Linked DNA regions of Homo sapiens: region 2 is linked to region 1. A link means that fine-mapping ties the variant in region 1 to the expression of a gene that starts in the linked region. Tissue or cell type: subcutaneous fat. Region 1 holds a variant in brackets; the other region holds the start of a gene. All regions are shown on one strand. Distances are from middle to middle.

What was found. PIP is the estimated chance that this variant, and not a neighbour inherited with it, causes the effect.
Region 2: it holds the start of TUB, and the variant in region 1 is fine-mapped to the expression of TUB in subcutaneous fat (GTEx, PIP 0.92).

The regions. Positions count from the first base shown.
Region 1 is chr11:8,055,334-8,059,679 of GRCh38, reverse strand. It overlaps a transcript of TUB not described here. Among named protein-coding and RNA genes, the nearest start is that of TUB-AS1, 2.5 kb to the left of the region's middle. The variant AGGG/G (reference allele first, on the strand shown) is at 2,053.
Region 2 is chr11:8,079,692-8,083,691 of GRCh38, reverse strand. TUB (TUB bipartite transcription factor) reads right to left here and starts at 2,481. Exons shown (of 12, transcript NM_177972.3): 1 at 2,144-2,481. The coding sequence starts at 2,181. RefSeq lists an enhancer at 1-530.

The DNA.
Region 1 (4,346 bases):
TCTCCCCTCCAGGCTGGCTTAGCTCCAGCCACTCCTAAACTCCCGGCAGATCTCCCCGCAGAACTTCTTTCTCATCTCCTGCCTCAGCACACACCCTCTCGTCTCCTCAGATCAAGGCTTTTCCCAGTGTGCCCTTGGGTACCTGCTTCACCATCCCCTAGCATACTCCCGGGCACCACCCTGCCCAGACCTGCCAAAAGAGAATCTCCGCATTTTTAACACAAATCTGTGGATGCTGCACACTAAATGTCGAGAGGCACTGTTCCGCTGAGCAGCTCCTCTTGTCCCAGCCTCGCTCCTGCCTCAGCTGGGCAATTTCTTCTTTTTTTGCCCCTGTACTCTCCAGGGTGTAACTAACTGCGACTGGATGTCTCCTCTGCTGGGCTGTGAGCTCCATACAGGCAGTGACCACGTCTTCTTCCTCTGACCTGTAAATCCCTGAGCCTGCTACAGAGAAGGGACCAATGAACGGGACCCCCACCTGAGCCCCAGTGCCCCCGGCCAGGAGGAGGTCAGGCTGATCTAGTGACAAGCCACAGCTTGTCTGGAAACCTAAGACACTGCTCCCAGGGTCTCTGCAAGTTACATCTGTCCCTCCACCCCACCCTACCTCACCGTCTGCACAGTAAGGAGACATGTTGGGACTATGTGTAATGGAGGGCCTACGGGGTGTTAACAGTGACATTTAACAACAAGCTCTCCAGAAAATGTCTGCATGCGTAGACTCAATAAGTTTATTATAAATTTTACTGACACAAAGGATGTATAGCACATAATTTACAAATACTAATGAAATATCCAATATTCTTTATTGTAAATTCCATATAGCCAGATGACTGTCCCAGAAATCAACCCATTCAATGAGTTTCGCCTAACTCTTTATCTGTAGCCAACCTACGGTTGCAATGACAAATTACTGTAGTTCCAGCTTAATGCTGCTTGATATTTTCATTTATGTTAACAAGTAAGTTGAAAGTGAAACAACAAAGACATGTCAGAACTTCACTCCTTCACTGGTGGTCGGAGTGACTTCTTTGCTGAATAGGTTAATAGTTTCTGAATACTGGAAAAATCTTTGTTTTCTGCTATTCACCATGGAGCAACTATAAACATGACACCCTTTAAAATGTAATCTGCATTAGTAGTATTTTTTCCCATCACTTTCTCAGGTCTAGACAATCAACAAAACAATAAACCAGGTCTTAATGTGCAGCACCTGTTGACTCCCCTGGTCTAGCCACCCTCGCCATGGCCAATCTGTGATGTGACTGAGCATCGAAGTGCGAGGAGATGCTCAGCAGTGCACGGTCACGTGGCAGTTCCACCCCGCAGACACAACAGACAAGCGCAGGGAAAGGCAGTAAAATGAATACGAAGTGGTGAGTTTTCAGTATATTACCTTTGTAAACATAACTTGTTTAATGTTAAATTTATACCGCTTCTTTTTTTTTTTTTTTTTAATTTTTGAGAGAGAGGATCTTGCTCTGTAGCCCAGGCTGGAGTGCAGTGGTGTGATCTCGGCTCACTGTGGCCTTGACCTCCTAGGCTCAAGTGATCCTCCCACCTCAGCCTCCTGAGTAGCTGGGACTACAGGCATGTACCACCATGCCTGGCTAATTTTTGTATTTTTTTGTAGAGATGGGGGTCTCACCATGTTGCCCAGGCTGGTCTCGAACTCCTGGCCTCAAGCAATCCTCCTGCCTCGGCCTCCCAAAGTGCTGGTGCGGCAGGCCAGGCATCACTAACACAGGCCTCCATAACAACTGTTTCAGTACTGACTGAGTGGTTAAGTCAAATATTAAAAGCTGACAGAACCAGTGCCCTTATACAAAGGCTGGGATGTAACAAAAGCCCACCAAGAGTTTTGCCTAGGCCTTTCCTGGGCCTTAAAGCATGACAAAATAATGAAGGAATTCTTAACAGGCCTCGTTTAAGGTTAAACAAGTTTTATTGGGGGTCTGAAGAAACTCCCCAGGCCTCCACAAATAAGTTTTATTGGAGGGCTGAAGGAACTCCCCAAACCTCCGTGACTTCGCAGGGGACAAGATAAGG[AGGG/G]TAATTACCCCTGGCACCTGGACCCATCTAGATTAAGTAAATTTACTGAGGCCCCAGAGGAAGGTCTTCAGGACTCGAATCTTAGTTATAGATTAAAAGAAGTTAATCACTTATGTCTTTAGACGAATGCACACTTACACATAGACATATAGTTTAGAAGATATATAAGCTCTGGAAAACTTTGTAATTTTGAGTTGGTCTGGCAATAATTTCCAGGCCTTCTCCCTGTGACCGGTTACAGAAATAAAAACTCCCCTCTCTCCCAGTTCATCTGCATCTCGTTACTGGGCCTTGAGAATAAGCAGCTGACCCTCGGTTTGGTCCAGGAACACTGGGATTACAGGCGCGAGTAACTGTGCCCGGCCAGTTTGATGCTTAATAACAGCTATGTTGAGCAAAGGGCTTACAAACATTTTCCTTTATTGCGCAATCGATTCTCATGAGCTGTCTGTGGGCCAGTTCCAGGAGAGTCACCCTAAAGAACTGAATGGGACCCTCCATTACTGCCATTACCCAGAGGGCCAGTCCCCTCCCCAGCCCTCCAGAGCCTAGCTTGTGAGCTGCCAGAGCTGGGATCCTGAGAGTCTAACAGACCCTGCTGTGTGATCCAGCCAGCTTGTTTCCACTCTGTGGGCCTCAGTTTCCTCAACTTTGAGGGGGAAAATGGTGCCTCCTAACTCGTGACGTGTGGAGAGAATGAAACGCCCACTTGCCCTTCCCCCACACACTTGGCCTACATACTGTAGTTCGTTCCCATCACTGCCCCCACACCTTACTTGAGACACACCATGTGCTTGTTTTGGGGACATGCCTGCACACCCCTCACCCTCCCAAACCACATCACACACAACAACATGTCACCCCATATACCACTCAGAGACAAGCTCACCTGTAGACAGCTGCCTCCCACACATCACCTCAGACACTCCACAGATAGATTTTCCTCCAGCTCTACCTCACACACAGCCTACCTGCATACCCAAACCACACCCCACAAAGGCTCCCATGCGCATATGTACCCAAAATTCCTTCGTGTGCTTTGTACCCACATGTACTGTGCCAAATACCTTTTCCCTCCCCCCAGGCATTTCACAGAAATGGATGCCTCACCCTGCCCACCACAACCCACTGACACTCCAGACGTCCCCCTGCCTTCCCCTGTCAGCACAAGCATGCGCACCACACACATGTGCCCATCATTTATTTATACTTCTCTCCAAACTCACACCTCACAGCACACACTCATGCCACCCCCACGCACAGGCATTCCCATATGGCCCTCACACACTCAAGGCATTCCCATATGGCCGCACATTCCAGGACAGGAGACCCCAGCCAGCCCTCTGAGCCCATGCCCTGGATTAAGGAGAGTGAGGGGCATCCTGGTAGCACGAGGTGGGAAAGCTAGGGTGCACTTCCTCGTGGTGACAGCTTGCTTCCCTGGAGGTCAGGCCCTGGCTTGAGGTGCAGGGAGGACTTCAGAGAGCTGAGAAGGGATAGGACAGAACTGTTGGCTAAACACCTCTGTGTCCTCCAGATCCAGCCTCAGGCGGCTCCAGCAGCCAGCTCCTTCCTGCTCTCCCCAGCACCCCCAACCCAAACAAGGACACCCATCTGCTTCTGGAAGCTCCTCCCATGCCCTGTGAGAGCGGGACTCTTGGGGGCTTAAGGGCCTTGCCCAGGCTGCAGTGAACGCTGAGCCCAGGCTCCCCTGTCACAGGGAGGGATCAGAAGTCACAGGGCCCTGAGCGAAGGGGCTAGTGGGAAGGTGAGCAGGGAGGCCAGGGCTCCTGCTTCCAACTCCACAGGTGCTGTCAGGACTCCAAGGGGGTGCTCCTTTCCTATGCCTTGCCAGACTGAGGCGGTGGCAGAGGCACACACTGTCATTGGCTGTCCCAGCCCTCAGCTCCACCTGAAGGTTGGACTCTATCCTGTCCCCCAGTCATCATCCTGTACTCTTGCCCTGTCCTTGCCCCCACCCCCAGCCCATCAGCAGCAGAGCTGAGTCCTGGGGTGAGGGGCCTCTGTCTGTCTGCTCCCATCACCCAGCATCTGTGCGGCCAGGGTAAGGGCCTGCCTCCTGGACCACCCCATCATCTGAGCAAGGAGGAGCCAGTGTGCAGCAGATGCTGGGTGGGCTCTGGGGCCCATGATGGGCAGATGCCAGCACATCTGTCTAGGTGGTCCCAGGACACTCTAAGAGCAGCCTCAGGCCAGACCGGGTCCTGATGGGCACAGGGAAGCCATCTCAGGGGTACACCCCTTCTTACAGCGCCACCCAGCGATAATCC
Region 2 (4,000 bases), 24 kb before region 1:
GGGGCCAGGCTTCCAGGGAGGCAGGATTCTATGCTTCAGGGCTGAGTCTGCGGCCCAGGAAAGGAATTGGAGGGGTGGCGGTGGAGGGGAGATAGTAGTTGGACCTGGGCTGAGGCAAGTGCCAAATCACTCCTTGCAGGATGCCAGGGCCCTAGGCACTTGCTAGAACAGGATCATTTCCTAGAGACAGTTCTACCTTCCTGGGCCACCTTTCCCAGGAACAGGCTTAAGCCATTCCGTTTGAGGCATATTTTCTCTAAGACCCCTGCACACTCTCTACAAGTGGCTTTAGTCCCTGGCTCCCTGGGAGAAGCTTTCTAGAACCATGTCTTGGCCTGGCCCAACCTCCAGTTTGCCAGATCCTAACCACGTCATAATCTCCACAGCCGTAAGTGCTGCCCCTCCCACCCTCCTCGGTCCATGGCCACCACCCTGCCATCTGGACCCCCGCACACAGGTACTTCCACAGCACCGGAGTCCACTCAGCCCACAAGCACCGCCCAGGCACCTCTGCCGCGTGGCTAGAAAAGGTTGATGACGCTCCATGGGGCTGCACTGTCTTCTAGAAGGTCCTCAGCCCACATGTGCCAAGAAAGGCCAGGATCCTCCAGAAACTACCTGTGCCCCAGCCTGGACGTCTGTCTGGCGCAGCAGCTCTTCTCAGTCAGCACAGCCCCAGTCCCTGGTTCCATGATGGAAACAGCTCCCTAATCCATGTGAGACTGAAGTGTGACTACATGTGTCTGCAGGAGAGCCTGTGGGTGACCTGTATGTGCGCACGTGTGAGGGTGTTGCTGGTGGTTGTGGGGAGAGACACAAAATAACCTGGAAACCCCTGAATCCCCCACAGGAGCTGAGATTAGAGGTAACAATTCTCAAGAGAAACCCTGAGTTCCCAGGCCACGTGCCTGTTTTCAGAAGGATCTGCTTTTAAGAAGCCTTGGGCGGTTTCAGCTGGTTTCCATTTGGGACGCTGTCTGGACAGACTCAGAGAAGAGCCCTGTCAGAACTATTTTCTATCAGTGACTGGTATGAGGCTCTAACAGAGAGCAAGCTGTGTTACAAGGCGGGACCTGAGGATCTCATCCTGCCGTCCGCTAGCACGTGCACCTGGGTCGACAATAACACAGTGGGCCTTAGGAGTCCAGCACCCATTTTCCACAGAGACAGCCCCGTAGCCCATGGCAACCAAGGAGCCAATGGGTGGCCAAGAATCTGGCGCTGCCATGGCGATGAGCTCCCTTCCCTGGTAATAGAATGGAGTAGAGTGGATAGGGAAAGACCTGCACCTGTGAGGGGCCCCCCAGAGACCACCTCCCCGCCCCCTTCCCAGGCAAATGGGAAAGCCCAGCCATCCTTGAGATAGACCACAGTGCCTGGCAGCAGAGGGTGGGGGGCTTCCCTGAGTGTGCCTGGATTCTTGAGTGCCTTTCTGCATGTGAGGGCAGTTCTATGTACTGTGAGCTGGTGTGTGTCTAGGTATAGACCTGCTAGCAAGTAGATTATTCAGTGTCTGAAAGAGACTGAGTAGCACTTGTGAGTGAGAAGCAGGTGTCAGTTATTCTCCAGATACAGGAGGTGGACGTGCACAGATATGCAGGCATGTGTCTTTGTGAGCCCAAGAATTCTTGTGTGTAGAATATACGGGTGCATGTCCACATGACCACTGGTGTGCTCTTGGTTCAGAATAACTGTCTTCACGGATCCATGCTTTGAGAGTGTGAACCGACCAGCAGGAGCGTCTTTGGCCCAAGGCAGGGACGTCCTGTGGGTGCATGCGTGCAGATGTATGAGCGTGTGCGCGCACCCTGCACAGGCGTGTGACTGGGGTTCTGGGCCTAGGAGGGGGCTCAGAGCAGTGTGGACTCCTTCCCCAGGCGGCCACATGGTGCTGCCTGACCCAACAAGGCCCACACAGGCCCCTTCCAGCAACCCTGGCAGATAAGGGGGTGGAGCGGGGCAGGCGGGAGCAGTCCGCAGGGGCCCTCAAAGTTGAGGGAGGAAGGACCAGCGACTCCAACCCGCGCCCCAGTGCTGGGATAGGTGGGGAGGGCAGCGGTGCCCTGCGCCCCGGCCGCGTATCCCCAGCCAGCTCACGTCCCGAGTCGGGAGTGGTGGGCGCCCCGGCCCGGCGCCCGCGTACCTGTAGGGAATCCAGTCGGAATGCGGCTTGGAAGTCATGTCTCTCGGGGGCGGGGCGGTGGCTGCGGCTCTGGAGGCCGGGGCCCGGAGGGGCCGGCGCGGGGGCCCTGCTCAGCTCCCGGGCCGCCCCGGGCCGCATCCTCCCGGGCCGGGGCGCTGGGCCCCGCCGAGGCCCGCGCTGCACGCCAGGGCCCCGGCTGCTGGCTCTGCGAGCGGCTGCCTGCGCGGCGCGGCGAGGCGAGATGGGCGAAGCTCCGGGAGTGCGCGGGTCGTGCGCGCGCGTGGAGGCGGGGAGGCCGACCGCACCGTCCCGCGCCCCTCTGGCGCCAAGGCGGGAGTACTGCGTGGCAGCGGCGGCCTGCCCCTTCTCCCTCGCCCCGCCCCGCCCCGCCCCGCAGAGACCCCACCCCCCGGCCGGCTCAGGGCCTGCGGAGCGCCCTTGCCCCCTCCCCCGAAATCGTCGCGATCCACGCTCCATGCGCGTGACCGCGCCGGCTCCCACCTTCGGCTAACGGCGGCGCTGCAGCCGGGCCAGTCCCCAGGCCTCCCAGCCTCAGTTTCGTCTTCTGTGAAACGGGGATCATTCGAACACCTCCCTGTGTACCTGCCCTACCTATCTGCGCTATGGGATGGGAAACCGATGCGCGGATTTGGCGGGGCAGGGACCGGGCCGGAGGCGCGGATGGAGAAGGAATCCAGTCGTGCAGGAAGAGGCGGGGGAACCTCCGGGCCGAAGCGTGGAGGTTGGCCTTCCCTCACCCCCACCTCCGAGTTCCCACACCCCCGCCTGGGGAACCCTCTGTCTTTGGGTTAAGGAGGTGTTTCCTCAGCAGTGGCTCCCTCCCATCTAAGCTATAGCGTCAAGGGAAGGGGAACATTTACGGTCTATTGCATTCCCAGCCCTTGCAAATTTCTAGTATGTAATCTCCACAGTAGCCTTGAGAGACAAACATCATATCCCTATAACCCAGAGAATAGGAATGCTGAGATGCCCAAGGCCGTAAAGCTAGGAAGTGGTGGAGCTGAAACTGTTCTGTGATCTGTGTCCTCCAAAGCCCTTCCTAAGGGGCGCAGTTGACCGGAGGCAAAAACCCCTACAAAGATCATCTGAAAGTCTCTGCGCGCTGAGGAGGTCCTGGCTGTGACTAGGACCAGCTTGAATGCAAGGCATGGCACACTGAGAAGGTGCGGGACCCACAGCAGGGCGGGCGGAAGCAAGGAGCAGCAGGCTGAGGGGTCACCAAGGCCTGCGTGTGGAGCAGGTGATCCGGGAGAGGTCTGCGGAGGGGCACGGTCCCCACACGCCCCGTGGGCGTCCTCGTGTGCATCCTGGATTCTGCCGCGCCAACCGCGCCAGAAGAGTGTTGTGCGGGGATCTTCTGATGATAAATAGGCGGTCAGGACTGCCCCGCAGAGAGTGTGAGAACAGCCAAGGGGGCTGAGGGAGGGGGCTCATCCTGCTGCCCTGGGGCTACAGCCAGACCCCCACCCCAGGGCTCTCCCAGCCCTTCAGCCTTGCCTTCTCTTGCCCATTAATTATAAAACACAATAACCCACAATATTTGGATTATTTGCTGGGCGTCAGGAGCTGTGTTAGGTGCTACGTACATATTATAATTCGTTTAATCCTCATAGCCACCCTAGAAGGTAGGCACCATTAGCATACCCATTTCACAGCAGAGGAACTGAGTCACAGAGAAGGCAAGGATCTTGCCCAAAGTCACACAGCTGGTCAATGATGAAGCTAGCATTCACACACAAAAGGTCTGGGTCTACAGCACTTACCCTCAGCCTCCTTTTGGCCAATCACAGTTCATGTAGTGCACACACACACACCCCTACACACATGCACACACAC